6 separate regions of the Homo sapiens genome follow, and all the other regions are linked to region 5. The links come from fine-mapping of genetic effects on gene expression. A gene starts in region 5. Each other region holds a variant in brackets. All regions are shown on one strand. Distances are between the middles of the regions. Region 1 overlaps TMEM156 (transmembrane protein 156). Region 2 overlaps RFC1 (replication factor C subunit 1). Region 3 has its middle 3.1 kb from the start of TMEM156. Region 4 overlaps KLHL5 (kelch like family member 5). Region 5 holds the start of KLHL5 (kelch like family member 5). Region 6 overlaps TMEM156 (transmembrane protein 156).

Region 1 (5,078 bases), 56 kb after region 5:
AGAAAAATCTAATAATGTAATTCACTACATTAACAGATCAAAGAAGAAATACTATATAATCATCTTAATAATTGTTGAAAGAGCATTCAATTATATTCAATAGCCCTTATAATTAAAAATTCCCAGCAAACTAGGACTAAAAGAGAATTTGCTTAAATTGCTAAAGGGCATCTAAAATAATTATAAGAAATATTATCAATGATGATACATTGTAAGTGTTCTTAAAATCAGGAGCAAGCAAGAATGCCCACTCTCATAATTTCTATTCAACATGGTACTGAACGTCCTTGACATTGCAGTAAGACAAGTATAAGAAATAAAAAGTATGAAGATTGGAAAGTAAGAAATAAAGTTATAATTATTTGCAGTCAATATGCATATTTGCATAGAAAGCCCAAAAGCTATAAAAATTAAAGTTAATAAAAAAGTTTAATAAAGTGGCAAAAAATAAGATTGATATTTAAAGGTCAATTGTATTTCCATATACTACCAACAGACAGAAAACATATTTCCTAAAAGATGCTATTGACAATAGCAACAAAAAGCAAGGCGCCTAGGAGGAAATCTAACTAATTATTAATCTAATAATATATAAGATCATAATGGAGAAAATTTAGAAAACTTATTGAAAGATATCAAAGAAACCAAAGAACTCTACATAAATAGACAGAAAGGGCTGGGTGCAGTGGCTCATGCCTGTAATCTCAGCACTTTGGGAGGCCGAGGCAGGCAGATCACAAGGTCAGGAGATTAAGACCATCCTGGCCAACATGGTGAAACCCCATCTCTACCAAAAAATACCAAAAAAATGAGCTGGGTGTGGTGGCACGTGCCTGTAGTCCCAGCTACTTGGGAGGCGGAGGCAGGAGAATCGTTTGAACTCGGGAGGCAGAAGTTGCAGTTATGCAGTTAGCCAAGATCACTGCACTCCAGCCTGGTGACAGAGCAAGACTCTGTTTCAAAACATAAAAATAAAAAAATAAAAAATAGATAAATAAATACATAAATAAATAAAAAGAAAGGAAGAAATGAATGATAGGAGGGATTCAGTTTCATATCTTTCTTCTCCAACTGATTTCTAGAATCAAGTCAAAAGTACCACCGGGTACTTCACCACTTAACAAGCTGATTTTAAAATTTATTGAAATGAGCGAAGGATTGCTAAGATACTTCTGAAGAAAAATAACAAGGCGACGGGACTTTTTCCTCTCAGATATAAGAGCTTGTATACAGGAAAAGTAGTTTGCCAGCATGATACCTTTGCAAAGATGGAAAAATGGACTAAAGGAACAAAATTGAGAACCCGGAAACACGCTTATATGTACCTGGAAACTTTATATGACAGAGGTGTCATTACAGATAAGGAAAGATAGACTACTCAATAAATGCTAGTGTAATTGGTTATACATAAAGAAAAAACAAATTTAGTTCCACACATCGTACTGTATACAATTCCATGTTTTTGTTTTTTTGTTTGTTTGTTTGTTTTAGACAGGTTCTTGCTCTGTCACCCAGTCTGGACTGCAGTGGTATGATCATGGCTCACCACGGCCTCAACCTCCTGGGCTCAAGCAACCCTCCTACTTCACCCTCTGTAGTAGCTGGGACCACAGACACGCACTACCACGCCTGGCTAATTATTATTATCATTATTATTATTATTATTTTGTATTTTTTGTAGAGATGGGGTTTTGCCACGTTGGCCAGGCTGGTTTCAAGCTCCTGGACTCAAGTGACCCACCCACCTTGGCCTCCCAAAGGGCTGGGATTACAGGCATGAGCCACTGTGCCCAGGCAGTCCGTATATTAAGAAATGAAATGTGAAAGGCGAAACTTTAAAAACAACTTTTAGAAGAAAATATAGGTAAAGATCTTTTTAACCTTAAGGAAGAAGGACTTCAGACACAAAGCTCAAATTAGAAAGAAAGTGGTTGATAAATTCACTACATTAAGAGCTCCCTTTAACTGAAAGATCAAAAAAAATAAATAGATAAGGTACTGTGAGAAGATATCCTGATAAAAAATGTAGAGAATTCATTGAAATTTTAAGCAGAAAACGTAAATAACTTCTAAACATTAATTAAATAAAAGACAACCTAACAAAAAATCAAAACTTAGAAAAAATCGAGAAAATTAGGAAAATATACATTAAAACCATGATGAGATTCTATTTAACACTCACCAAATTGGCAAAATCTGAAAAGCACTGGTCAGAATGTGTGTCAAAAAGAAAGAACTGCCAGGCAGTGGTTCATGCCTGTAATCCCAGCACTTTTGGAGGTCAAGGTGGGCAGATAACTTGGGGTCAGGAGTTTGAGACCAGCCTGGCCAATATTGTGAAACTTCATCTCTATTAAAAATACAAAAATTAGCCAGGCATGGC[G/A]GCAGATGCCTGTAATCCCAGCTACTCAGGAGGCTGAGGCAGGAGAATCGCTTGAACCCGGGAGGCAGAGGTTGCAGTGAGCCGAGATCGTACCACTGCACTCCAGCCTGGCAACAGAGTGAGAGTCTGACTCAAAAAAGAAAAAGAATTTTTATACACTGCGGGTGGGAATATAAATTGATACAAACCATTTTTGTATAATGATATGGCATTTCTAGTAAAACTGAAGAAACACTAAATACCCAGTAATTAAACCCTTAGTGTACACTAAAGACATGTTCATCAATTTTCAGAGTAGCATTATTTTAACATCAACTTCACAGACATATAATTTACGTACAGCAAAATGCTCCTACTTTAAGTGTATAGTTTGATGAGTTTTGACAAATGTACACACCAGTGTACCTACCACCACAATTAGGATATAACACTTTCTATCACTCCTAAAAGTTTCTTCTTGCTTGTATTAGTCTGTTTTCACACTGCTATAAAGATACTATCCGAGACTGGGTAATTTATAAAGGAAAGAAGTTTAATTGACTCCCAGTTCTGCATGGCTGGGGAGGCCTCAGGAAACTTACAGTCATGGTGGAAGGTGAAGGGGAAGAAGGCAGCTCTTCACAAGGCAGCAGGAGACAGAAGGGAGAGCAAAGAGGGAAGAGGCTCTTATAAAACCATCAGATCTTGTGAGAACTCACTCACTATCCCAAGAATAGCCTGGGGGAAACTAACCCATGATCCAGTCATCTCCCACCAGGTCCCTCCCTCAACATCTGGGGATTATAATTCAAGATGAGATTTAGGTAGGGACACAAAGCCGAATCGTACATTACAAAGCTCCATTACAGAAGAGCCCTTCTCCTACTGCCAATGCACTTTTCCATTTTCTTGAATGTCATATGAGTGGAATCATACAATATATAGTCACTTGATTTTGTCCTCTTTATAATGCTTTTGAGATTCATCCACGCTGTTGCTTGTAGTTTGTTCCTTTTTGTGGCTGAGTGGTATCCCATTACATGAATACAGCAAGAGTTGTTTATATATTCACTAGTTTTTAGACATTTGAATTGTTTCCAGTTCTTGGCTATTATAAGTAAGAAAGCTGCTATAAAAATTCACGTACAGGTCTTCATGTGGACATATGTTTTTATTTCTCTTGTGTAAATTTCTAGGAGTGGAATTTTTGGGTCATATGGTAAGTATATGTTTAACTCATAAGAAAATCTGTTTTCCAGAATGATTATACTATTTTACATTCCTACCAGCAATGTATGAGAGTTTCAGTTCACAGCAACATTATTCATAACAGCAAAAAATGGAACAACACAAATGTTCACTGTCAGAAGAATGAATAAATAAATTATAGTATATTCATTCATAAAAATACCATATATAATTAACTACAGCTCTATGTATCAACATGACTAAAACATGTTAAGCAAAGTAAAAGCAAATCACAGAATACATATGGTATATTCCATATATATGTATATATTTCTAAACTATGCTATAGTGTAGGGGTGAGAAGAGATAGGGGTGCTTCAAATGCATTGGTAATATTCTGTTTCTTAATCTGGGTGATAGGTACATGGGTCTTAGTTATTATTATTTAACTGGCACAATACATTTTATATATGTGTGTATAATATATTTTTATAATAAAAGTTTAAAAAGAAAGGTAGTTGATGTTTCTTTAATCTTACTGTTGCTTTTCTTTAAAAAGAGAAAATATTTGACTTGAGCATTTGTCCTATAGTGCCATGTATTTTCCCAATTCTGTTCAGTATTCTATGTACTTCCTCTGAGAGGTTGCAGTCTTAGTACTGGAGTAATTCTGGAATGCATTTCCATCTCTGAGAGTGAACATTTAGATGTTGACTCTCAGCAGTATTAATGGCAGCAGTTAAATTCATAAATCCTTGCTTATGGAGATGAGAATATAGTCCACCTGATAGCAAAAATGATTGAGTAGAATTTATTTATTTCTTAAAATTATACTGGGGAAGGATGTGTCTTCTATTTATTTCTTTTCCAATTCAATTATTTAAAGCTGAGGTTTAAAAGTCATCACGAAATTACCCCATAGCCGAATATAAAGGATCTGTCATCAATTCTAGAAAGCTCAGTTGGTCACTTATTGAATAAGAAGACTACACTATTGACAGTAAACATTTCTCTATCTCTCTTTTAGGTCATATCATAGCAATATAAATTGAAGAAGTTGAAAGTTTCATAAAATGAAAAGTGCCAGTGAGGAAAATGGAAAGATGGCAAGAAATCAGTTTTTCATGTATTTTAGTGATATTAAAAAAGATACAGATTATGGAGTTCCATCAGATGGTGCATCTCCATATCCTTCCTGGGGCATTATTAGTGAAGGCAATTTTTTTTTATTGTAGTTACAATCTGATTACAACTTTGATTATAAATATATTAAGATCCCAGCACTTTGGGAGGCCGAGGTGGGCGGATCACCTGAGGTCGGGAGTTCAAGACCAGCCTGACAAACATGAAGAAACCCCGTCTCCACTAAAAATACAAAATCAGCCGGGCGTGGTGGTGCATGCCTGTAATCCTAGCTATTCAGGAGGGTGAGGCAGAAAAATCACTTGAACCCAGGAGGAAGAGGTTGCAGTGAGCCGAGATCATGCCACTGCACTCCAGCCTAGGCAACAAGAGCAAAACTCCATCT
Region 2 (5,078 bases), 260 kb before region 5:
AGGTTCAAGCAACTCACCTGCCTCAGCCTCCCAAGTAGCTGGGATTACAGGCATGTGCCACCATGCCTGGCTAATTTTGTATTTTTAGTAGAGACGGGGTTTCTCCATGTTGGTCAGGCTGGTCTTGAACTCCCGACCTCAGGTGATCTGCCCACCTTGGCCTCCCAAAGTGCTGGGATTACAGGTGTGAGCCACCGCGCCCGGCCTTGGTAGGAACTTTCTAGGGAGTACAGTATTCCCCCTTATCCATGGTTTTGCCTTCTGAAGTTTCAGTTACTTGTGGTTAATCATGTTCTGAAAGTATTAAATGGAAAATTCCAGGAATGAACAATTAATAAGGTTTAAATTGGGTACTCTTCTGAGTAACATGATGAAATCTCTCTGGCCAACCTGCTTTATCTCACCCAGGATGTGAATCATCTCTTTGTCCAGCATAACCATGCTGGATACACTACCCACCCGTTAGTCACTTGGTAGCCGGCTTGGTTATTAGATAGAAAAAACAGTACATGTAAGTATATATATAGTTTGGTACTGTCTGTGGTTTCAGGCACCTACTGGGGTGGTCTTGGAACATACCCTCCTCGGATAAAGGGGGACTGCTGTATATATTTTGGTGCTATGTGTTAGTCTGGGTTTGTTTTCAAGTTTTATTTCTAACGATCATAAGTCATTATAATATTTTTAAGATATCTTATTTAGAAGCTGTTGTAGGATATGGAGTATTAATATAGCTAAGTAAGCCCATATTTATTGTTATTGTGTGTCAGATACTGTGCGAATACTTTACATGTGGTAGCTCATATAATTTTCACAACAACCCTGTGAGATATTTATTTTTATTATTCAACTTTTAAAGACGAGGAAACAGGCTGAAAGAGTTTAACTATTCTAAGATCATCCACCTGGTAAGTGGCAGGGCCAGCCTTGAACTCAGGTCCTCTGAAGCAGTATAACATAGTGGCTCCACACACAGGCTCTGGAGCCAGTTTCAGGCTCTGGGACTCTGAGCAGGTTTGGTCACTTCCCCTGTCTGTGCTTTGGTGCTGTTTGTAAAATAGGAATAATAATAATAGTACCTAATGACTTCATATGTAAAAGCACTTAGAGCAGTGCCTGGGACCTAATAAGTGCCATCTTAACTATTATTATTAAAATGATTGTTATTTGGCTTAGTCCTAAATTTACTCTTTTTTATTCTTGTACAACAGTGTTGCGATACTGAAATTATTTTTAAAGGAAAAAATGATGAGATAATGAATATCTTTGAAAAATTTTGCTAGGAAATATATTTGAGAAGCGAACGGTCTCTGAATCTCCAATTTGGAACTACTTTAGATTCATAATGAGAAACCACTATTCATTCATGCCTCTTAGGCACTTAGGATTAAAAGCAGAATATCACCTATTTTAACTGGTCATCACCATTATATTTTAGTGCAGAACAGTGAAATGGTGATGATTTCAGAATGCTTTTGTTTGTGGACAATGCTTATAAATACGCTTAAAGGAGCAATTAACTTTTTGATCTCAGATTTTTTCTGCACTAAATGCTTATCTGGTAAATGAATGGTTTTCTTCAGGCACACTAAAACATGTTCCATTTACAGAGGCAGTCTGTTTTTATGAAGAAAGAGGAAATCTTTAAATGATACTCTTCACTGTACTTTTTAAAGTTAGAATAGAAATAACTCAAAACTTTTACTTAAGCAGTTTTGGTTGGAAACGTCAAATAAAGTCTATTTAATACATTTAGTTGGTCTTGGTCAAATAATTCTGACTTCATAAAGTGGGTGTCCTTCAAAGTTATTGTATACGCTGTTTACCATTCAGAATTCTTTTCATAGAATGAGTGTCGTAAATTAATCGTTTTTCCATGTTGGTATGCACTGGACTCTCTTGTGAAACTTGTTAAAAAAATGGAGTTTCCCAGGGAATGTGGTGTGGGCAGCTGTATTTTAATAAGCTCCTCATATGATATGAACACACACCAACATTTGAGAACCATTGTTAGAAAGTAGGGTTAGATTCTAGGACCAGCCTGTTAATGGCTTATCGACCTCTTAGCCAAACCAGCTGAACTATTTTATTGGTTAAGCCATTCCTTTTTTTTTTTTGAGACGGAGTCTCGCTCTGTCACCCAGGCTGGAGTGCAGTGGCGCGATCTCAGCTCACTGCAAGCTCCGCCTCCTGGGTTCACGCCATTCTCCTGCCTCAGCCTCCCGAGCAGCTGGGACTGCAGGCGCCCGCCACCAAGCCTGGCTAGTTTTTGTATTTTTTTAGTAGAGACGGCGTTTCACTGTGTTAGCCAGGATGGTCTCGATCTCCTGACCTCGTGATCCACCCACCTCGGCCTCCCAAAGTGCTGGGACCACAGGCGTGAGCTACTGCAGCCGGCCGCCATTTCTTTGTATAGAAGTTACTATTTTGTCTACTCTCAAAAGGATTTGGGATTGCTTACAAGTTAAAAATAATGTTAAAATAGGAAGTGGAAAAATAACAAACACCTGATAGTGGTTCTTAAATGAGAGCTATCTAAGATATTTTTCCCCCACATAAACACATTCTAGCCATACCCCATAT[C/A]TCCGAAAGAGAAACTTGGAGGTGGATCTAGGGATGCATAGTTTGAAAAGTTTCCCCAGGATTTTCTGAGATATACCTATGGTAAATTCCCCGAGAGAAGTAGAATGGGAGGAGATGAAATAGCATAGAGAACGTGTCTTCTCTTTGGAGTAAAGCTTGTACCTTCTTTGAGCTGACTGTTTAGATTCTCCTACTGGAATGCTTATGTCCTTAGGGATGCAGGCTGGTGCTTTAGGGGCATGGAAGGTCATAGGATTAACACAGAATATCTTCTCGGGCGATCAGGTTTACTTGGGGAAAAAATGTATTTTCCCGTTAAACATGGATATATGGATATATCATGAAATATAATTTAAAATTCAGGTGAATTCCTAAAGTAAAACACTTTTTGCATTTCTTTGCTTGGAGCTGGCAACTTGGCTTATTCCCATAATCTGCCCTGAGGTGTGTGGCTTTAGAGAGTGGAAAGTTTTGAGAAGCGCTGATGCAGGGATGTTCGTAAGTCAGTTGTCTGTAAGTTAGGAAGTACTTGTGTAGCTAAAACTGTTAATTTCACAGCCAGACACAGAAGTGACACAATAAAAATAATGTTTATTTCTAGATATGTATTTTAAATTTTGCATGAATTCTGTATGACTTTGTTCATTTTCCTTTCCCTGTTCCCAAAGTCTGTAAGTCCTGAAGATTCTGAAAAGAAACGCACTAATTATCAAGCTTATCGAAGCTACTTAAATCGAGAAGGTCCCAAGGCTCTGGGCTCCAAAGAAATACCAAAGGTAAGAGTACTGAGAGGGCATGCCATTCTGTGAGGGCCTCTGCCGTATGGGTCCATGTATGTATTCACGATGATTATAGCAGCAGAGGATTAATAATTAAAAATGAGCAACAGAAAAGCTTCAGTTACTGTCTTCAAGAATTAGGGATGTTTATTCATGTTATGAATCACTGCTTGATACTTAGAAAAATTTCCCTTTAAATAACAAGTAGCCCTAGAAAGGCTGAGCTTTGAGACTATACCAGTGACAAAACTAATGTTTTTGCTTGCATGGCACTTATAGCCTAAAGAAAGAGACATTAAATAAATAATTTAATTATAATTGGGATATGTGCTATGAGGGAAAAATCTAAGATGCCCTTAGGTAGTATAACAGAGGAACCTGGTCCTTGGTGGGGCATGTAGAATGTGACATTTAAATGGAGACTTGAAGAATGAAAGGGATTCAACAGGTGTGAAGGGGTTGTGATGGCGTGGTGGTCTGGGCAGAGGGGCCAGAATGTATGATGTTCCTGCAGGGGGAAGGTTCTTGCATGGTATGTTTGAGGAACTGAAAGAAAAATTATGGTTGGAGCATAGTGACCAAGGGATGAGAATGGCCAAAGAGGTTAATAGGATCACATCTTGCAGGGCCTAATGTTTAAGACTTTTGTCTAAGAGAAGGAATTTTTATTTTGTGTTTTTGAAATGGAGTTTTCGCTCCTGTTGCCCAGGCTGGAGTGCAGTGGCGCAATCTCAGCTCACGGCAACCTCCACCTCTTGGGTTCAAGCGATTCTCCTGCCTCAGCCTCTGGAGTTGCTGGGATTACAGGCGTGCGCCACCATGCCTGGCTAATTTTGTATTTTTAGTAGAGATGGGGTTTCTCCATGTTGGTCAGGCTGGCCTCGAACTCTCGACCTCAGGTGATCTGCCTGCCTTGGCCTTCCAAAGTGCTGGGATTACAGGCGTGAGCCACTGGGCCCGGCCGAGAAGGAATTTTAAAGTGGAGGGATAACATGACCAGATTTGAATTTCTGAAAGATCGCTCTGGCTGCTGATGTACCAAGTGCTGTGGATGGGGCAGAAATAGCTACACAGAGATCATCAGGAGAGATGGTGAGAAGTGATAGGGACTGGTCTGGGGGAGCAGTGAAAATGTCGAAAAGTGGAGAGGTTTCACTAGAAGAGGCAAAATCTATGGGACTTGGTGATAATTGAAGTGGAAAGTGAGAAGAAAGAGTATTGGGGATGATCTTGTTATTGGCATGAGCAGCTTGGTGGATCATGCGATTGGTGGCAGGGCTAGTTTGGGGAGATGATAATGAGTTCGTTGTTGGCCACACTGTGCTTTAGGGTTATGTGAGATGTCCACATGGAGATGCTGAGTAGACAAGCAGATATGTGGGACTGGAGCTTAGAACAGAAGTCAGAACTAGATGGACAAACTTGGGCATTCTTGGCATGAAGGGATTAATAGCATCTGGTAAACTAGTACAGAACAAGAAGAGAAGAGGGCCTTGGCCCCTGCTTCTTTGTGAAGTAGAAGAGGGTGGAAACCAAAAGGAAACTGAGAAGTAGCAGCTACAAATATGGGAGAGAAGTTTGATAAGCGTGGGATCACAGAAGCAAAGGGAAGAGAGAGTATTTCAAAAATGATTGAGTAGTTAAGTCTGTCATGCTGTTAAGATTCCAGGTAAGGGAAGACCGGAAATTGTTCCATTTAGTAACATGAATTAATGA
Region 3 (5,078 bases), 27 kb after region 5:
AGTCGGACGGGCTCTCTTGTTGCAGCCAGTTCTTTTTATCTGAGACTGGATCTATTAGGCCTGATACTTTCAGACTCTGAGCAATTTATTTTACTTTATCTCGTACATATTCAATGGTTGTTATATTTACCATCATGAAGAATGTTTTGGTTATGCTTTCCTGCCTGTTTATGCATGTAATTAACAATATAATGAATTCTGTGGTTCGGTTGCCAGACTTTGTTTCCAGAGGCTGAAATATACCACAGTGGTTCCAGAATCCATTCCAGGGTGGTTTTCCCTCCTTGTCCCCGCAACTCTGTGAGTATACAGCTGGGCAGACAAGCCTGACTCATAGTTCTTTTGAGGAAAGAGGCTCCAACAGGTTCTTTCCTGTCTAAGCTGCAGTCTCAGTGCAGGGGGTTTTGTTAGTGAAAACAAACTGCCTTTCCAGCCACAGGTGATTGGGGTCAGGACACAATGGGCCAAGCAGCCCTGTGTGGGCTGCGCATGAGAAGACCAGCCACGTCTCAGGAGGCCTGAGTGTGAGGGCCTGGGGCAAACTCTGCCCACTGAGGATTCTAAACCCGGTGGTGGCAGGTCAAACCATATTTCCCCACTTACAGGAGAAATGCACTGAGTGGGCCAGGCGCAGTGGCTCATGCCTGTAATCCCAGCACTTTGGGAGGCCGAGGCAGGTGGATCACCTGAGGTCAGGAGTTTAAGACCAGCCTGGCCCACATGATGAAACCCCGTCTCTACTAAAAATACAAAAATTAGCCAGGCGTGGTGGCGCACGCCTGTAATCCCAGCTACTCCGGAGGCTGAGGCAGGAGAATCACCTGAACCTGGAAGGCGGAGGTTGCAGGGAGCTGAGATCACGCTCACTGCAACAAGAGCGAAACTCCATCTCAAAAAAAACAAAATAATAATGATAAAAAAGAAATGCACTGAGTGAACAAAGATAAGGCAGCTCAGTGACCCGCAGCCTGGGGTCTGAGCAGTGCTGAGCACCTTTTCCGGTTCTCTGAGGGGCTGACTCAACCTGGCTGTTGAAGGGGTGACCTCCTGTGTGCACTCATGTCATGGAGTTCTTTGCCGCAACCTTGCCACAGCCACTGAAGGTACCACTGCTGTCTCCTGTTGGCCTGCTCAGAGGTTCTCTCTAGATTTCTGCTCTATTAAGTTCAAGCTCCAGCCCAGGGGAGAGCCGCCAGCCTCAGAGACACCACAGCCCCTTTCTTAATTATCTGTTTCTAAAATAGCAAACAGGCTGTGTGAGTGGAGAGAGACAGAATTATGTTTATTAAATTATAATTTATATACAGTAAATGATGTACATCTTTTTCAGGGTACAGGTCTAGAATTTTGACTAACACACAGTTGTATAATCACCACCATAATCAAGATATAGAACATTTCCATCACCCTAAAAATTCCCTTATGTCCCTTTGTCATTAACCCCTCCCTCTGTCTCCAGCCTCTGGCAACCACTGATCTATTTTCTGTCTCTGTGGTTTTGCCTTTTCCCAAGTGTTGTATTAATGACAAGGCCTTCATTAACATCCTTATTTAAACCAACATGTGCCCTGCCCAACTTTCTGCTGGCACATCTCACCCTCATACTTTGCCCGATTTTTTTTTCAGGACACCCACAATAACTGAAAATAAATTATTATTTACTTAATTACTCTCTCTCATTGGAATGTACGCTCTCACTAGAATGTGAGCGTGAGAACCTTGCGTGCTTGCTGCTAGATCTCCAGCGTTCAGGACGCTGCCTAGTGTCTTGTTAGTGTTGGGTAAATATTTTTTGAATGGACCACAAAATGAATGAGGATACTGGAATTTCCGGGGACCCTCTCCATACTCAGGTAGACCTTGTTAAAAAGAGATTATTTTTCCCCACAAAAATGTGTTAATCTAAGAATTGCTGTGTTGCCAAAGTAGATGATTATCTGCCAGTAACACAATTAGGGGTAATTAGGGGCCAAGAGCGGTGGCTCACGCCTGTAATCCCAGCATTTTGGGAGGCTGAGTGGATCACTTGCGCCTAGGAGCTTGAGACCAGCCTGGCCAACATGGCGAAACCCCTTCTCTAAAATACAAATACAAATACAAAATAAATACAAAATAAAAAATACAAAAATTAGCTGGGCCTGGTGATGTGTGCCTGTAGTCTCAGCTACTCAGGAAGCCGAGTTGGGAGGATTGCTTGAGCCCAGGAGGTTGAGGCTGCAGTGAGCCTTGCTTGTGCCACTGCACTCCAGCCTGGGCAAAAGAGCGAGACCCTGTCTCAAAAATAAAAAAAAGAAAAGAAAGATAAGTAGTTAGGCTGATCCAGGTTATGGATTGTCTTTTAAGTTTACTTTCTGGCTGATTAGGTTACCTAGAATAGAACTGGCCTGAAGTGACTAACATGGAAATAATGATAGTAACTATTTCATAAGGTGGTTACAACAATTAAATGTTACAAATTAGGTTCAGTGTTTACTGCTCAGATGATGGGTGCACCAAAATTTCACAAATCACCACTAAAGAACTTACTCATATAACCTGTTCCCCAAAAATCTATGGAAATAAAAAAAAATTTTTTAAATGATCTAATATAAGTGAAGCGTTTCATGCAGTGGTTCTCA[G/C]CTGGGAGCTGTTTTGTCACCCCAGGGACATCTGACAATATCTGGAAACATTTTTTTTCTTTTGTTTGTCAAAACTGGGGCGGGGAGGCCAGGTGTGGTGTTCATGCCTATAATCTCAGCGCTTTGGGAGGTTGAGGTGGGATGATTGCTTGAGGCCAGGGGTTTGAGACCAGCCTGGGTAATATAGTGAGGCCCCATCTCTACAAAAATTTAAAATTAGCCAAGCCCGGTGGCACATGCTTATCGTCCCAACTATTCAGGAGGCTGAGGTGGGAGGATTGCTTGGGCCTGGGAGTTCGAGGCTACAGTGAGCCGTGATCATGCCAGTGCACTCCAGCATAAGTGATAGAGACCCTGTCTTTTAATTTTGTTTTTTTTAATTAAAAAAATAAAAACTGGGGTGGAGAGGGCTGCTACTGGAACCAGCTGTTGAACATCCTACAATGTACAGGATATCCCGCACAACACAGAATGACCTGTCCCAAAATATCAATAGTGCCACCAGTGAGAAACCCTGGGTTAGTGCAGCATCAGGCACATAGTAAAAACTGTATTGGTGTTTGCTATGATTATTATTTTATAAGTGGCCCTTCTTGACAAATGTTCCCACACAGTCTGACAGTGGAGGTATAATGGAGTGTTGGGTTGAGAGTTAGGTTTGACACCTAGCTTCACCCTTTATTAACTATGTGACTTTTGAGCCCTTACTTGACTTCGCTATACCCCATATTCTTTGTCTATCCAATTGGAATAACAGCAACTCCCTGAGAGAGTTGCTGGGGAATTGGATAAAATAATTCATACAAAACATTCAACACTGCAGTAGCACATAGTAAATGTTCAGTAAATGCCATCGATTGTTGCTGCTGCTGTTGATCCAATAAAGACCTTTCCACAGAATATAGTGAAGGGATAGAGGACAGTTTCAACTAGGAAAAAAAATTACTCATATAAAGTATATAAAAGCGTATATTTCGTATATTAATAAATATGTAGAAGTTAAATTTAAACTATCCTTTTTAAGGCTGCTATTTATAATTTTCTAAAAAGTATATTGCTTTTGCTTTCCTAGGGTAGAGCACCTCCTTGATATAAAAGATCCTCTCAATTTTAAACATTTGTATCTAACACAGAATGCATAATTATTTAATTAAGACGTTTGGTCTTGATTAGAAATAGAAACACATTAAAGTATTTTTGAGAACCTGGATCTCAGATATGAAATATAAGACTTAGGAAAGTTAAACACTAGCGTAGTAGCAACAACCTCTTGTGTTTGAGATTCGTTAATCTCTTATTCCTTCATTGAAATAGGAAGGAGAAGCTTGCAGTGGGTAAGTAATTGCAGATTTGTAGCCATTTCTAGCAGTTCCTAGAATCCCCTTTATAATCTAATATTTGTGTTTTTAAAAAATAATCTAATATTTGTAAAAGTGCTTTGGAAATTGTAAAACAAAACTATGGAGATGTGGGCCATTAGTATTATCATCAACCCTAACAGGATGTTAGAGAGTCAGATGTTGCCACTTCAAGGGAGATGACCGAGTTTTGGTGCATTTCAGGAAGCCAAAATCAGGCTGCAAGTAAACTTTGTATTTAAGAATAAATGAGACCGGGCTTGGTGGCTCACGCCTGTAACTGCAGCACTTTGGGAGGCTGAGGTGGGCAGATCACGAGGTCAATAGATCGAGACCATCCTGGCTAACATGGTGAAACCCCGTCTCTACTAAAAATACAAAACATTAGCTGGGCGTGGTGGTGCATGCCTGTAGTCTCAGCTACTCAGGAGGCTGAGGCAGGAGGATCACTTGGATCTGGGAGGCAGAGGTTGCAGTGAGCCAAGATTGCACCACTGCACTCCAGCCTGGAGACAGATTGAGACTCCGTTTCAAAAAACAAAAAACAAAAACAAAAGAATAAATGATTAAATTGATAAACTATACATTATTTCGTGTAATATTAGAAATACAATGAAGAACTGTGTTTCTCTGCATAAAACTTTTAGGTACGTGTTTTATACTCTGTTACAAAATAGTTGGGTGGAAAAACTCCCACCATATACAAAATGAAAAGGCAAATGACAACCTGGGAAAAATGTTTGCAAAACATATGCAAAGATTTCATATTCCCAATAGAGAAAAAAGTCTTATAGATCAACAGGAAGGATATAAATGCTGCAATAAAAGACATGAACATGCAATTAACAAAAGAAATTCAAATTGCCAGCAAATATTAAAAATCTTTAGAATTACTGTCAACCAAACAAATGCAAATTAAACAATACTTTTTTTTCCTTTTAAATTGGCAATGGTTAAAATGTTTCTATCTTCTAGATGTACTATTTTCTGAACACCAGAATTCAGCACAGCACCTGGCACCAAACAGGATCGACAATCATTTAATAAGTAAATGAATGAGTCATGTGCATGCAACCTAGACATGACTGACATTCACCCTTTT
Region 4 (5,078 bases), 55 kb before region 5:
AATTCTTAAATCTTTCACCTCTTTTTTGAACAATAGGAACTCTAGACACTGGGTAATTCATAGTGGAAATAAAAGTGTGGACAAAAATAGTTCTGAAGAATTACTCTGAACACAGTAAGAATCTATGCATTTGACCCAGGAGAGTTAAAATGTTAACATGGATTCAGCGGGTGAGTAATGCAAAGTACTAAGAAAGTTTGCTTTGTACTTATATATGTTAGGGTATGTACTAAAGTATTTTTGTCAAATGCCAAAATGACTTCCTAATCAGTTCGACCCCCTAGACCAATGAGTAGATTTTAAGAACAGGTCAGACTTCAGTTATAAGAGAATTCTCAGTAGTTCTCCATCTGAATCAGTTGTTTTGATCACTGTAAGTCTCTTGGAACAATCAACCTATTTTAAAACCATACTTATTGATAGCATTATCGAACTGACCTCAAAAATCATTTATATCAAAATGTCAGTTTATAATTAGTAGCTCTTCTCAAATCATCCAAGACACTTAGTCTCTACATTGTGAATAGCTGACACTGTCATGACAACTAGCTAGAAAGTGTAGCTTAGAGAATTTGTTAAATACAATGCAATCACCTCTTGCTTTGAGGTAAGGCTGGTAGTGAGGTGGGTAGTGGCTTAGGACTTTGTCATCTCATTTTAGTGCCTATACAAATGTCCATCTGTCAGAACACTGAAAGGAAAACTTCAAAATTTTTTTGTTTGTTTGGCTTGTTTTTGAGATGGAGTCTTGCACTGTCACCCAGGCTGGAGTGCAATGGCACATCTCGGCTCACTGCAACCTCCACCTCCTGGGTTCAAGCAATTCTCATGCCGCAGCCTCCTGAGTAGCTGGGACTACTGGCACACACCACCATACCTGGCTAATTTTTTGTATTTTAGTAGAGACAGGGCTTTACCATGTTGCCCAGGCTGTCTCGAACTCCTGAGCTCAGGCAAACCACCTGCTTCGGCCTCCCAAAGTGCCGGGATTACAGGGGTGAGCCACCATGCCTGGCCCAGGAAAACTTTTATTTTTCAGACACTATGATAACGAGTTCACATTTTTAGGTGCTTTAACATAGAGAGGTGGCTTGCAAGCAAAATAGCTATGTGGACACTGATGATCAATTTTGATATGGGGTGATTTAGCATAAAGCATTAATTATAAATAATAACAAGTCTCAAATAACTGGCTGATAGGTCTTAAATCATATATATAACTGGACTTAGGGCTTAAATACATGTCAGAAAAAGAGATTCTTATCTTTCTGAGCTCCTTGGGTGTCATTCACAACTATTTTTGCCATAGTGGGAAGCTGATATTAGGTAATCATCTAATTTCCAATGAAATCTTGTAGCTCTCAATCTTATCCCTTCCTCCCTCCATCAAGTGATCTCACTTAAGAAACAGGATAAAGCCCACACAATCTAAGTCCTTTTCTTCTCTTTCTCTTCACTTAAAAACTCCCTGTACCTTTCTACACTCAAATTCTCATCTTTTCCCAAGCCTTGGAGGGTAAGATCTTTCTTCTAGTCTGAGGGTGACCAGTCTGCTTTTTTTTTTTGAGAGGGAGTTTTGCTCTTGTCACCCAGGTTGGAGTGCAATGGCGTGATCTTGGCTTACTGCAACCTCTGCCTCCCAGGTTCAAGCGATTCTCCTGCCTCAGCCTCCCAAGTAGCTGGGATTATAGGTGCACGCCACCACGCCCAGCTAACTTTTGTATTTTTAGTAGAGATGGGGTTTCACCATGTTGGCCAAGCTGGCCATGAACTCCTGACCTCAGGTGACCCACCCGCCTTGGCCTCCCAAAGTCCTGGGATTACAGGCATAAGCCACTGCGCCCTGCCCCCAGTCTTTGCTCTTAATTCTGTTTCCTGCCCTTTTCTCAGAAAGGTGCCCTTCAGTTTCACTTTTTCTTTCTAGTATCTGGAATCTCTCTCTACCCTCTTCTTGTCATCTCTATTGTGGAGCAAAAAAAAAAAATCCTTGGCTCTAATTCTAACTCCACCATTTATTTGCTATGTGGCCTTGGGTTAGCTGTTTAACTTCTGTGTCAGATTCCTCATCCTGTACAGTGCGAAAATACCAGAACTCAACCTTATAGGGTTGTTGAAGATTAAATTCTTTACAGTGCTTAGAACAGAGCCTGGCCTGTAAGATATGCTCAATAAATACTAACTTTCTATCATCATCATTTAAAAACTGCATGCCTCTCTAGCTCCTACACTCTATTCTTCTGTTTACTTTTTTTTTTTTTTTTTAGATGGAGTCTCGCTCTGTCACCCAGGCTAGAGTGCAGTGGCACGATCTTGGCTCACTGCAATCTCCACCTCCTGAGTTCAAGCGATTCTTTTGCCTCAGCCTTGTGCCTCAGCTGGGACTACAGGAGCATTAATTTTTGTATTTTTAGTAGAGACAGGGTTTCACCATGTCGGCCATGCTGGTCTCGAACTCCTGGCCCCAAAAGATCCGCCGACCTTGGCCTCCCAAAGTGTTGGGATTACAGGTGTGAGCCACCGTACCTGGCCTCTTCTGTTTACTTTTGAAACTGTGTGCTGGCTTCTGCTTCTATCAGATTTTCAGAGGGTCCCACAACTTTAAAAATGACAAATCTTCATTCTTTCTTACACTGTTGAAACTC[C/T]TTACTCCTCCCTTTAGATGCTCTATTCCATTGTCTTCTGAGAACTTCTCTCATCATTCCTTTCCTGTTTTCTTCAGAGACCACACCTCCCAATTCAACCCAGTAAGTGTGTGTATATAAAGAAAGATCAACAAGACCTGGCAATATCTCTTGAATCCATCTACATTGAATGCTTCAAGCCTTGCAACTGAAGCAATCCTCTAAATACTTTTCCTTTTATCCAGCCCTCACTTCCCCTGCCCCTAACCCAACCTATGCGACCCCAACTGCATCATTCTCTTGGTTGAAAGTTTCTGCTGGCTTCTTGTTACCAAACTCTTTAGCTTGGCCTTCACACATCCCCATTCTTTTAAAAAATCATTATTATATGATTATTTTTAAGAGACAGAGTCTTGCTCTGTTGTCCAGGCTGGAGTGCAGTGTCATGATCATGGTTCACTTCAGCCTCAACTCCTGGGCTCAAGCGATCTTCCGCCTCAGCCTCCCAAGTAGATAGGACTACAGGTGCGTGCCACCACACCTTGCTAATTTTTCAAAATTTTGGGGGCTGGGCATGGTGGCTCATGCCTGTAATCCCAGCACTTTGAGAGGCCAAGGTGGGTGGATCACGAGGTCAGGAGTTTGAGACCAGCCTGGCCAACATGACAAAACCCCGTCTCTACTAAAAATAGAAAAATTAGCTGGGTGTGGTGGCGGGCACCTGTAATCCCAGCTACTGGGGAGGCTGAGGCAGGGGAATCTCTTGAATGCGGGAGGTGAAGGTTGCAGTGAGCTGAGATCGTGCCATTGCACTCCAGCCTAGGTGACGAGAGCAAGACTCTGTCTGAAAAACAAAACCAAAACAAAAAAACCCACAAATTTTTGCAGAGATGGCGCCTCACTTTGTCACCCATGCTGGTCTGGAATTCCTGGCCTCAAGCGATCCTCCCACTTTGGTCTCACAGATCTCCATTCTGACCCCAATCTTCCTCTCCAGTAAGCACTCCTTCTCCTCTCAAGCACAGATCCTATAACCAGTCATACTTCAATACGTATTACACAATTCTGCTTTGGTGACATTTCTTTCACATTTTCTCACAATTTCTTCTTTCCAATCTTTTTGAATTGGATCAATTCACTAAGGCTTGGTTTAAATCCCCCTTCATTCTCACTAAAGCTTTCCCCATAACCACTTTCTTTTTTCTCTCTTATCTCCCGTATCACTTGGCGCCTGTACCATGGGACACTAAATACCCACTGCCTTGTGTGGTGCATTCTCCTCTTGCACATGTAGATCTTACCTACCCAAGACCTCAGGTTACATGACCATGGGTCTTCTCAGAAGCTTTCTTTTCTTTTCTTTTTTTTAAGATGGAGTCTCACTCTGTCACCCAGGCTGAAGTGCAGTGGCATGATCTCTGCTCACTGCAACCTCTGCCTCCTGGGTTCAAGCGATTCTCCTGCCTCAGCCCCCCGAGTAGCTGGGATTACAGGCACGTGCCACCATGCCCGGCTAATTTTTTTGTATTTTTAGTAGAGATGGGGTCTCACCATATTGGTCAGGCTGGTCTTGAACTCCTGACCTCGTGATCTGCCCGCCTCAGCCTCCCAAAGTGCTGGGATTATAGGCATAAGCCACCATGCCTGGCCTAGAAGCTTTGTTTTCTTGACCATACTTATCATGGCTCCTTGTATACAAGAAAATCTTGGCTCAGTTAAACATTTATTGTCTTTTATGTACCAAGTACTGAACTGGGTGACACAAGCACAAATTCCTGATTCTGTTCTTGGTGATGATGGAAGCAAAGATCTCAAAAGATCATTTTTAGAAGTGCTAGACCCTCCCAGAAATACACAAGGGTGAAATTCTTTCTGTTAGTAAGACTGCCAGATCAGGTTTCTTACTCAGTGTAATTTAGGGTTGCCATCTTCATTAGGTTATCAGGACTTTAATCTGCTCCCAGATATCAATGGGTTGAGTATTTAAAAATCCGACTGCTCACACATGGGCAAGTTGTTCAAAGTTTTCTGACTACTATCCTTGTTTTTATTTTCCAGTCTCCCCTCCCATTGTTGCAGCCCTCCAGTAGTCCTATCAGCTTTAATCAGGCTAGAACACTTCATCATGCAAGTGGTAGCAGATAATTAATAATTTCTCTGAGTATTAACTTACATCTCAAAGGTAATTCTGGATTTTAATTATGTTATAAAATTAAACATTGCCTCTTTTTCTCATCGCTAATCAAAACGTGATTGTCATATTTATGCCATATATTTCAGTATTGGACAAGATTGAGGGGATCTGTTTTACCATAAGAATTGTTTTAATAAAAAGAGAGTCAGTGTAATAATGAAACATGAATGCCATACCTGGGTCCACTCATTTGTCTGGGGATCATAAGCCTCCACAGTATTAAGGTATGCCTGTCCATCATACCCCCCAACAGCATATAACTT
Region 5 (5,078 bases):
TGATGAGTCTTCTTGAGTAGCATTTTTTAAACAACTTCATTTATTTTAGATTTTTAAAAATGCCATTTTATTTTTATATCTCCTATAAATGAAAAACGTCAATTTAAAATTCTTGAAGAATGCACATAGCAATCTCTCAGTCAAAAAAGGATAATCTTTTTATTTCATAATGAATAGCCCACCAAGATATTTCTGTATGCATACTAAAGAATAGCTTAATTTTATTTCAGTAATCATTAGCCATGCAAACTACCTTTGTTGTAAGGAATTATAGCAACCAATGTGTGTATAATTTTTCCAAGATTACACATGTATAAAAATTTTATATTCACATTATAATTTCTCCAGTAGTAGATAACATGTTAAGAGTTTTATATGTGAATTTACTTATGTTGGTAAATGAATGTTTTATTTTTTCTAATTTTGTTAAAATATTCTTGATATATTGATTTTCAAATGAAACATTTACTCTTTGGTTCTCCACAAAAATGATGAATCTTTTACTATATAAATTGTTCTCTTTATGGCAACAAGTCTCCAAAGAAAATACAAACAATGAACCACATTAGCTCAATTGATCTCCAAATTAAATTAGTGGCTTCTATTCCCTTAAGATAATGCCAAGTCATGAACTAATTAAAAAAAATTTAAATTAAATACACTATTTACCTACATACAGATATTCCCCTCTCTCCATTACACAGAAGATGACAGATGACTAGAGTAAACATTTTTTATCCTTCCAAGTCCACATTCTTAAGGTTAGAAGAGGAAAAGGTGGTAAATATCCTCAAGTAAGAGACACTTAAATATATAAATTCATTTTGTCTCAATCCATATGACACCTACATCATTAATAACCAACTTACAAATTACAAGTGTTATCAAAAGCTGCACAGAAATTTTAAGAGAAAAATATAATAATCAAATTAGACAAATGATAAGCTATTTGTGCCTTTAAATATTTAGAAATATTTTCGAATGAAGATTAATCAGAAAGATGACTTTCATGCTCTAAGTTGTTATATAATCTTATTGTAGTTTAAACTGATGAATAAGAAAATCCATTTCAAAGATAAAGGCAGATTCCAAGATAAAGGTAGATAAAGTCACTATGAAATTACCTATTTTTTTCCTTATTTTCTTTCTTCTAACTGATTTCCCCTTCTTCCTGTCCCCTTTTCACCAGATAATCACATCTAGCCCCTCTACATTCCCTTAAACTCTCCTGGAGGAATGTCCTTCATTTCCCTAAATAGCACACATTTCAGTGAAAGTGAAGGTAACAGGAATTAGTAGCTGTCATCTTAGAGACATGTTACTTAGTATTCTCTATATTAGTCTGGAGAGCTGTAACACAGACAGGACAAAGAGAAATAACCATAAGAAAAATATTATTGACAACTACAATTGTGTCAAAAAATTGGTGACTATAATGTGCATCTCTTTGCAAAACCTTTCCTTTTCATTAAATTAAAAAATGACTCTATCATCTGTTATAAACTAAAATGTCACATAAAATTTCATACTATAGAAATATCTTCTATAGTTTTGATATGAATATAGAAGGTTAATGAATGAAGCAAACCACAGGCAATGATACATGAAATTGCTACTATATATTATTTTCAAAGCTGAGCCAGATCTATATATAGAACACAAGATATTTCAAAATGAATGCTATTTGTTGTCTTTGTAATTTTACAGACTATTAGAACATTAAAAAAACCCTAGCAGAAGTATCACATGTTCATACCAAGATATTATATATATGTATGCAGATGTACATATATAATCAGATTTTAAATAATAAATACTAAATTATTTAAAAACATTATAGAGCCATACCCCCACACCCCTTTTCTAACAGTAAGAAAATAATCAACCTGCATGAACTGGAATCAGATTCATTTTCTTCTTCACTAGTGCCATCATCCACTTCTGGTCTATCCAGCCAATGTGCACCGCCACAATCTTCTGCTGTAAACTCAAATGCAGGGACTTCAGAGGTGGATGCCATTGGCCAAGAAGGTGAATTCTGAAAATCCAGTTGGCTGGACCTTCGGTAACCAATTGAAGCCAAAGGCAATTGTAGGCTACATGGATCTAAAAACTTTCTCCCACCGTTTGCTCCAGTCTGTCCTCGGTTCCAAAATTCTCCCTGCTGGCTGTCAACTGTAGAATTAGGAGATGATGCTTGATGACCAAACCACCTCCATCTGATTTTCAAAATCTGTTTCACATCAAACTCTTTACGAGAACCAGACATCCTCAGAGAAACCAAGTGATCGTCTAGGCAACGGGCAAAAAGCACTGCACACAGATTTGTGCATCCAACCAAGACAAGAGAAGTATATGCCCTGCTGTACACAACAAAAATATGTAAAGGAAAATAAATCACATTCATATATATATCTACAATTACTTTTATGCCAATATATCAGATTTTAAAGAACAAAGGATAATGAATAAAGATGAAACACGGTGGAACATTCCGTTCAATCAGAGCAAACTCTCATCCACCTATCCTGAAGCAGCTAGACCACTTTCCCGGCTCTCCTTTCCCATACTGACCATTAGGTCTCACAAACACTGACAGCATTCATTAAAGTCCTTTCAAATGCAGAACACCACCCCCTTTTTCTTAAACCACAAATGACAGAGACAGAAAACACTATCCCCGTTGCAGTATCTCAGTCTCTGCTGCTTAGTATATTAACTCTTTCATTGCTGAAACAATAAATGTATTCTATAGCATTTCCCTTTGTACTTAAAAATAATCACTTTAAAACTAAAATGTTTCTATTTCTAAACTAAGTCCCTAAGTGAAATACCACAAAACAAGTTTTTAAAAAAGCATTTGTAAAATTAGATGAGTTATGGTGATTTTCCAGGTGTGCTCTTTGGATGGGGAATGAGGAGGAAAGCGGAGTACAAAGGTGGGGCTCCAGACTATTGCCTTCACCTCTATCTTCTCCCTTCAGAAAACAAATGGATCTAATTAATACAGTAAGATCCTGGGTAAGATTTCACTTGGATAAAGAATAATGAGGAGAATAAAAAGTTTGAAAACTACAAAGGATCAAAATGTAACAAATACTCTTTTTCAAATAAACTGAGGCCAGGATTTCTCTATAAGTAGAAATGGGCCACTGCCAGTTAGTGTAACATCCAAATTTCTATGACATTACTTAGGAAAAGGAAAAGTGCGGCTCAAAAAAGCTACCAGGGACTGGGATAGGACTATTGGGTGTACAAGTGCCCTAATGGTGCCCTCTGTTGTTAGCAAAACAAACAATGGTTTGAACATGGTTACAGTTAAGGCAAATTGATAAAGCAAATACAAATAAACTCAAAAATACTGAGTAGTTATTGTGAACAATGCAATCTACTAGGCATTGTCAGGGACACAGAGATATATATATCTTGGTTCCTAACCCCCAAAATAATTAAATCTAGCTATTGAACCAAATACAAAATATTTGATAAGGTAAAATAAGAAACATTAAAATGCTGCAATATTAAAGTGTGATCTATCAATGCAGAATTTGAGTTTTCAGGGTGCTCAGTATTTACTCCTTTATCAACTAATTCCATACAAAAGGCAATGCCTATCTAAGCTGACCAAAAAACAAAAACAAAAACTACTTTGGAGGCTTACAAAAATATTGTGAGGTGTCTATCTTAATACAAATTATTCAGAGAAACAAGAATGAGAAGCATAAAAAGCCAAGTATGATTTCATGCTAAATAATACGGGAAAAACCATACAAACTGTAAGAAAGAAAGGAGATATCAGGATGGCAATGGAGTGGTATGGGCCAGTTTCATTAGGGAGAAGGCTGCTAAGAATAGTAAAACATTGTTTAGGTAGAATGATAGATTTCTACAGAAAAAGATTCTAATAAAAGCATGAAGTGGGCATATCTACAAGGAAGAAGTGGGAAATAATCAGTTTGATCAGCCAGCCATACCAAATTAATTTTAAGGTGTAGTAAGAGATAAAGTTAGATGAATACGATGAGATAAAATGCCTTGAGCAAGCAGCAAAGACATTATTGAATGGACTGTTGAACAGGACAATGTTTTAGGAAATTAACTTGGCAGTACTGTGCAGGACGCATTAGAGAGTGAAATGACACTTTCCCCTCTCCTCTCACCTTTGTCAGACTCCTTCTGATCAACATCCTTCTAACTTCACTCTAGCTATCCAACTTTATTTCTAACCATTTTCCAACATAGACACACCACTTCATTGGTCAAGGCAGTCTACATTATGGTGTTCCCTCTTTTATAACACTGTTTGCCTCCCAGAGAAACTCTGGTTTAAAAAACACACTTCATCCTTCAAGATTTAGCTCAGGCACTATCATCTTTGTAAACACTTCAGTTACTCTAAGTAGCTGGTTCTCAACAAGGGAAGCATCAACCTGCTCCTAAAGGCTTCTGGAAAATAGGTGGTGGTGGTGGTGGTGGTGGTAGATTTTTAGTTGTTGGAATGACCAGAGTGCTATAGGCATTGAGTGTGCAGGGGCCAGAGACAGCAAACATCTGGCAATGAAAAATGATACCTTTATTTTGCCAATCCTCCTCCACTCATTCCCATGGTAATCATTGCTGACGCCAAGCTTGGTACATATAGCCTTTCACACCTCTCTCCATGTTTATAAATCATGGACAAACTTATATACACATATATAAGAGATTTGCTATTGTTATACAAGAGATCATATTGTATTCATCTTTTAGCATTTTGCTCTTCTCACCTAATTTTATATATACATGGAAATATAAATTAATAATCTTTTTAAGAGTTACATGATATTTCATTACTGTAAAAAAACCAATTTATTAAACTATCTCCCTGCTAATGGGCATTCAGGTTGATTTCAGGTTTTTGGGTTTTTGCCATTAAAATAATGTTGAAAGAAACATCCTTGTGAGGCTTTTATATCTACAGAATTTATTGCCAGGAGTGGACTTGCTGGGTTGAAGGTATGTGCATTTTATTTTGTTTTATTTTAAGACAGAATCTAACTCTGTCACCCAGGCAAGAGTACAGTGGTGTGATCTTGGCT
Region 6 (5,078 bases), 43 kb after region 5:
TAATATCCAAAATATATAAGGAATTCAGACAATGCAACAGCAAGAAAATAACCTGATTTAAAAATGGGCAAAGGATAGTGAAGAGTTATTTCTTTTTTACTTTTTTCTTTTTTCATTTTTTTCTTTTCTTTTCTTTTTATTTATTTATTTTTTTTTGAGACAAGGTCTCACTATGTTGCCCAGGCTGGAATGTAGTATGGCTCACTGCATTCTTGACCTCCAGGGCTCAAGCGGTCCACCCACCTCAGCCCCCTGAATAGCTAAGACTGCAAGTGTGGGTCACCACACTGGCTAATTTTTAAATTTTTTTTGTAGAGACGGGGTCTCACTATGTTGCCCAGGCTGGTCCCAAACTCCTGGGCTCAAGCGATCCTCCTGTCTTGGCTTCCCAAAGTGCTAGGATTATTGGCATCAACCACTGCATCAGGCTGACATTTCTTGAAAGAAGACATACAAATGGCCAATACATATATGAAAAAATTCTCAACATCGCTAATCATCAGGGAAATACAAATTGAAATTTTATGAAAATACAGTGAAATATTATCTCACACCCAAGATGGCTATTATCAAAAAGACAAAATATAGCAAGTGCTGGTGAAGATGTGGAGAAAAGGGAACCCTTGTATACTGTTGTGGGAATGTAAAATAGTACAGCCATTATGACAGACAGCATAAAGGCTCCTCAAAAAATTCAAAATTAGGCTGGGTGCGGTGGCTCACACCTGAAATCCCAGCACTTTGGGAGGCTGAGGTGGGCAGATCATGAGGTCAAGAGATCGAGACCATCCTGGCCAACATGGTGAAGCCCCATCTCTACTAAAAATACAAAAATTAGCTGGACATGGTGGCATGTGCCTGTTGTCACAGCTACTCGGGAGGCTGAAGCAGGAGAATTGCTCGAACGGGAGGTGGAGGTTGCAGTGAGCCGAGATCATGCCACTTCACTCCAGCCTGGTGACAGAGTGAGACTCCATCTCAAAAAAAATAAAAAAAATTCAAAATAAGAACTACTAATAAGGCACAATGACATGCACCTGTAGTCCCAGTTACTTGGGAGGCTGAGTTGGGAGGATCGCTGGAAGCCAGGAGTTTGAGAGCAGCCTGGGCAACATAGTAGGATCCTGTCTCTTTAAAAAAAAGTAGAACTACCATATCGCCCAGCAATCCCACTCCTGGTTATATTTGAAGGAAAGGAAATCAGTGTGTCAAAGGATCTCTGAACTCCCATATCCACTGCAGCATTACTCACAATAGTCCGGATGTGGAATCACTCTGAACTCCCATATCCATTGCAGCATTACTCACAATAGTCCAGATATGGAATCAATGTAAGTGTCCATCAGTGAATGAATGGATAAAGAAAACGTGGTACATATACACAAGATAATACTATTCCACCTTAACAAAGAAGAAAATTCTGTCTTTTGCAACAGTATGAATGAATCTGGGGGATACTATGCTAAGTGAAATAAACCAGGCACAGAAAGAAAAATGCCACATGATCTCACTATATATGGAGTCGTAAAGAGTTGAACTCACAGTGGCAGAGAATAGAATAGAATGATGTTTACCGTGGACGACAGGGTGGGGTGAGGGGAATGGAGAGTTGTTGGTCAAAGGATACAAAATTTCATTTAGACAGATGAATAAGTTCTGGAGATCTATTGTATGGCATATTGACTATAGCTAATAATAATGGATTATATACTTGAAAATTGCTAAGAGAGTAAATGTTCTCGCCACACACAAACGAAAATGGTATGTGAGTGATGGATATGTTATTAGGTTTGATTTAATCACCTAACAATATATATATCTCAAAACATCACATTGTATACCATAAATATATATATAATTTTTGTTAGTTAAGTATACCTTAATAAAACTTGGGGAAAGGCACCTGAAAATATATGAAGTTTAAAGCAAAATGTAAGGTACTGTGATTGGGAAAATAGCAAAAATAGCAACAATTCGTACACACAAAGTTAATAGGGAGGACAAACAGAGTCGTTTATTCCCCCAGCCTAAAAATAATATAAAACAAATATGTGGGGAGATCCAATGCTCTGCCACATTTTGTGATTCTAAAAAACAATATGAGCAAGGAACAAAGACTATTAAAAGTTACCAGGCAGATTTGAAAAAGAACCAACTGGAAGTTCTAATTGTGAAAAATATAATAAATTAGAAATGCAAGGAATGAAATGAACAGATTAGATGCAACTAAATAATGAATTAGTGAACTGGAATAGAGATCTAAAGAAATTACCTAGAACATAGCACAGAAGTTAAGAGACATGGAAAGCAAAGGGAGCTATTTCTAATCAAAGCTGCAAAGGATAGAAGAAATAGAATAGGGTAAAGGCAATATTTGAAGAGACAATGGCTAAGAAATTTACAGAATCATTGAAAGACGTAAATCCTCAAATTCAGGAAACCCACAAATCCCAAGCAAAATAAGTGATGAGAAATTCTGCAGAGCATGAAAACTGAAGAGGTTTTTTTTTTTTTTTTGTTTTGTTTTTTTAAGATGGAGTCTCGCTCTGTCGCCCAGGCTGGAGTGCAGTGGCGTGATCTTGGCTCACTGCAACATTTGCCTCCCAAATTCAAGTGATTCTTCTGCCTCAGCCTCCTGAGTAGCTGGGATTATAGGAGCCCACCACCACACCCAGCTAATTTTTGTATTTTTAGTAGAGACGGGGTTTCACCATGTTGGCCAGGCTGGTCTCGAACTCTTGACCTAAGGTGATCTGCCCACCTTGGCCTCCCAAAGTGCTGGGATTACAGGTGTGAGCCATCGTGCCCGGCCAAGAGATCTTTAAATAACCAGGGATAAAT[G/T]CAGATTGTCTTTAAAAAGTTTAAAGGAACAATAGTCTGATAGCTCATCTCTTGAAAACAACAATGAAAATCAGAAGGCAGTGAAAAATGCCTGCAAAGTGCTGAGGCAAAATTTTTGTTGACCTAGAATTGGTGAGATGTATATTTTCAGGTAAACAACACAGAGAGTTTACAATCATCAGACCCTCAGTGAAAGAACTTCTAAATAATTAGCTTTAGGAGAAGGAATGTAATCCCAGAAGGAAGGGCAGAGATGCAAGAAGAAATGGCAGGGAAAAAAACCTCAACAACAATTATAAACATGTGAGTAAATCTAAACAAATCCTGAAAATATTAGATGCATAAAATTTAAAAACTCAACTAATTTGTATGTCAGTGAAAAAACAAGATAGAACCAAAATGCTGTATAAAAGTAACCTTTAAGTCAGGAAGGAGATGATCCGAGTTAAAGTATCCTAAGACCCTTGTATTGTTTGAGAGAGGTTAACTGTTGATTGACTTTAGGCTTTAAGAATGCATGTTAAAAATTACTATGGTAACTACTAAAATAATAGAAATATAGTATCTAACCTCACATAACTAAAGGGAAAAATAATGGAATGAGAAAAAAAAATCACTGAATCAATTTAACAGCCAGAAAGGCAAGAAACAATAGAAAGCATGGTACAAATAGGAAGCATTAATAATATGATATAATTAAATCTAAATATACCAATGATCCCAGTAAATGTAAATGGGCAAATCTATCCAGGTAAAAAGACAAAAAATTATCAGACTAGATTAAAAAAGCAATTTCCGGAAATATGCCATTTAAAACAGACCTATCTAAAGCATTAAGATAAAAGTGAAAAGATGAGAAAAATATACGGAACAAATAGTAACTGAAGAAAGCACATGCCATGGTATTAATGTAAGATTTTAAGATTAACATCATTACTAGCAATAAAGAAGGTCAGGATATATGGATAGAAGTTTCAATTCACAAGAATATGCATCAATTCTAAATTTATATGCCCCAACAAAGATAGCTTTAAAAAGACAATTATAAATCCATTATTTAGTGGGAGATTTTAAACATACTTCCCAGTCATAAAATACAACCATGTGAAGAATAGGAATATAGACAATTCAAACAATTCAAATAGCTAGTTTTATCTAATGGATGTATTTAGAATATTGAACTCAACATCTGGAACACATATTCTTTTCAGGGAATAAAAATACATACTTGGGCTGGGTGCGGTGGCTCACACCTGTAATCCCAGCACTTTGGGAGGCTGAGACAGGTGGATCACGGGGTCAGGAAATCAAGACCATCCTGGCCAACACGATGAAACCCCGTCTCTACTAAAAAAAATACAAAAAAAATTAGCCAGGCGTGGTGGCGGGCACCTGTAGTCCCAGCTACTCGGGAGGCTGAGGCAGGAGAATGGTGTGAACCTGGGAGGCGGAGCTTGAAGTGAGCTGATATGGTGCCACTGAACTCCAGCCTGGGAGACAGAGCGAGACTCTGTCTCAAAAAAAAAAAAAAAAAAAAAGAAGAAATACATACTTGATATGGTTTGGCAGTGTCCCCACCCAAATCTCACCTTCAATTGTAATAATTCCCACTTGTCAAGGGTGGGACCAGGTGGAGGTAATTGAATCATAGGGTGGTTTCCCCCATACTGTGTCTTGTGATAGTGAATAAATATCATGAGATCTGATGGTTTTATAAATGGGAGTTCCCCTGCACAAGTTCGCTTGCCTGCCACCATGTAAGACATCTCTTTGCTCTTCCTTCATCTTCTGCCATGATTGTGAGGCCTCCCCAGCCATGTGGAACTTAAGTCCATTACACCTTTTTCCTTTATAATTTACCCAGTCTCGGGTATGTCTTTATTAGCAGCGTGAGAATAGACTAATACAATACCAGACTATAAAAACAAGCCTCAATACATTTCAAACAATCTTTAATATACTTCTCTGACTAAATGAAATTAAATTAGATTCTAGTAACAAAAAGAAAGCTAAAAATAGGTAATATATTTGGAAATTTAGAAAATTCACTTCTAAATAACCTATAGTTGAGAAGAAACTATAATGGAGAATAGAAAATACTGTAACTGAATGATTAAAAAATACTATCTGTTTAAACTTATGCAATATTACCAAAACATATAACTTTAAATGCTTATACCTAAAACATCAGAAAAAGAACAATAAGATAAACCCAGAAAGTAATGGCAGGAAATAAT

The links. PIP is the estimated chance that this variant, and not a neighbour inherited with it, causes the effect.
Region 1: its variant is fine-mapped to the expression of KLHL5 in whole blood (TOPMed, PIP above 0.99).
Region 2: its variant is fine-mapped to the expression of KLHL5 in whole blood (INTERVAL, PIP above 0.99).
Region 3: its variant is fine-mapped to the expression of KLHL5 in whole blood (INTERVAL, PIP 0.94).
Region 4: its variant is fine-mapped to the expression of KLHL5 in whole blood (TOPMed, PIP 0.98).
Region 6: its variant is fine-mapped to the expression of KLHL5 in whole blood (TOPMed, PIP 0.98).

Annotation. Positions count from the first base shown.
Region 1 is chr4:39,003,353-39,008,430 of GRCh38, reverse strand. All of the region lies in intron 1 of TMEM156 (transmembrane protein 156), which reads left to right. Among named protein-coding and RNA genes, the nearest start is that of TMEM156, 27 kb to the left of the region's middle. The variant G/A (reference allele first, on the strand shown) is at 2,384.
Region 2 is chr4:39,315,196-39,320,273 of GRCh38, reverse strand. It overlaps RFC1 (replication factor C subunit 1), which reads left to right. Exons shown (of 25, transcript NM_002913.5): 10 at 3,252-3,359. Among named protein-coding and RNA genes, the nearest start is that of RFC1, 49 kb to the left of the region's middle. The variant C/A (reference allele first, on the strand shown) is at 2,584.
Region 3 is chr4:39,032,947-39,038,024 of GRCh38, reverse strand. No RefSeq gene overlaps it. Among named protein-coding and RNA genes, the nearest start is that of TMEM156, 3.1 kb to the right of the region's middle. RefSeq lists an enhancer at 569-1,098. The variant G/C (reference allele first, on the strand shown) is at 2,619.
Region 4 is chr4:39,115,244-39,120,321 of GRCh38, reverse strand. It overlaps KLHL5 (kelch like family member 5), which reads right to left. Exons shown (of 11, transcript NM_015990.5): 10 at 4,992-5,078. Among named protein-coding and RNA genes, the nearest start is that of KLHL5, 56 kb to the right of the region's middle. The variant C/T (reference allele first, on the strand shown) is at 2,643.
Region 5 is chr4:39,059,844-39,064,921 of GRCh38, reverse strand. KLHL5 (kelch like family member 5) reads right to left here and starts at 2,690. Exons shown (of 11, transcript NM_015990.5): 1 at 1,887-2,690. The coding sequence starts at 2,269.
Region 6 is chr4:39,016,473-39,021,550 of GRCh38, reverse strand. The region is part of intron 1 of TMEM156 (transmembrane protein 156); the gene reads left to right. Among named protein-coding and RNA genes, the nearest start is that of TMEM156, 13 kb to the left of the region's middle. The variant G/T (reference allele first, on the strand shown) is at 2,842.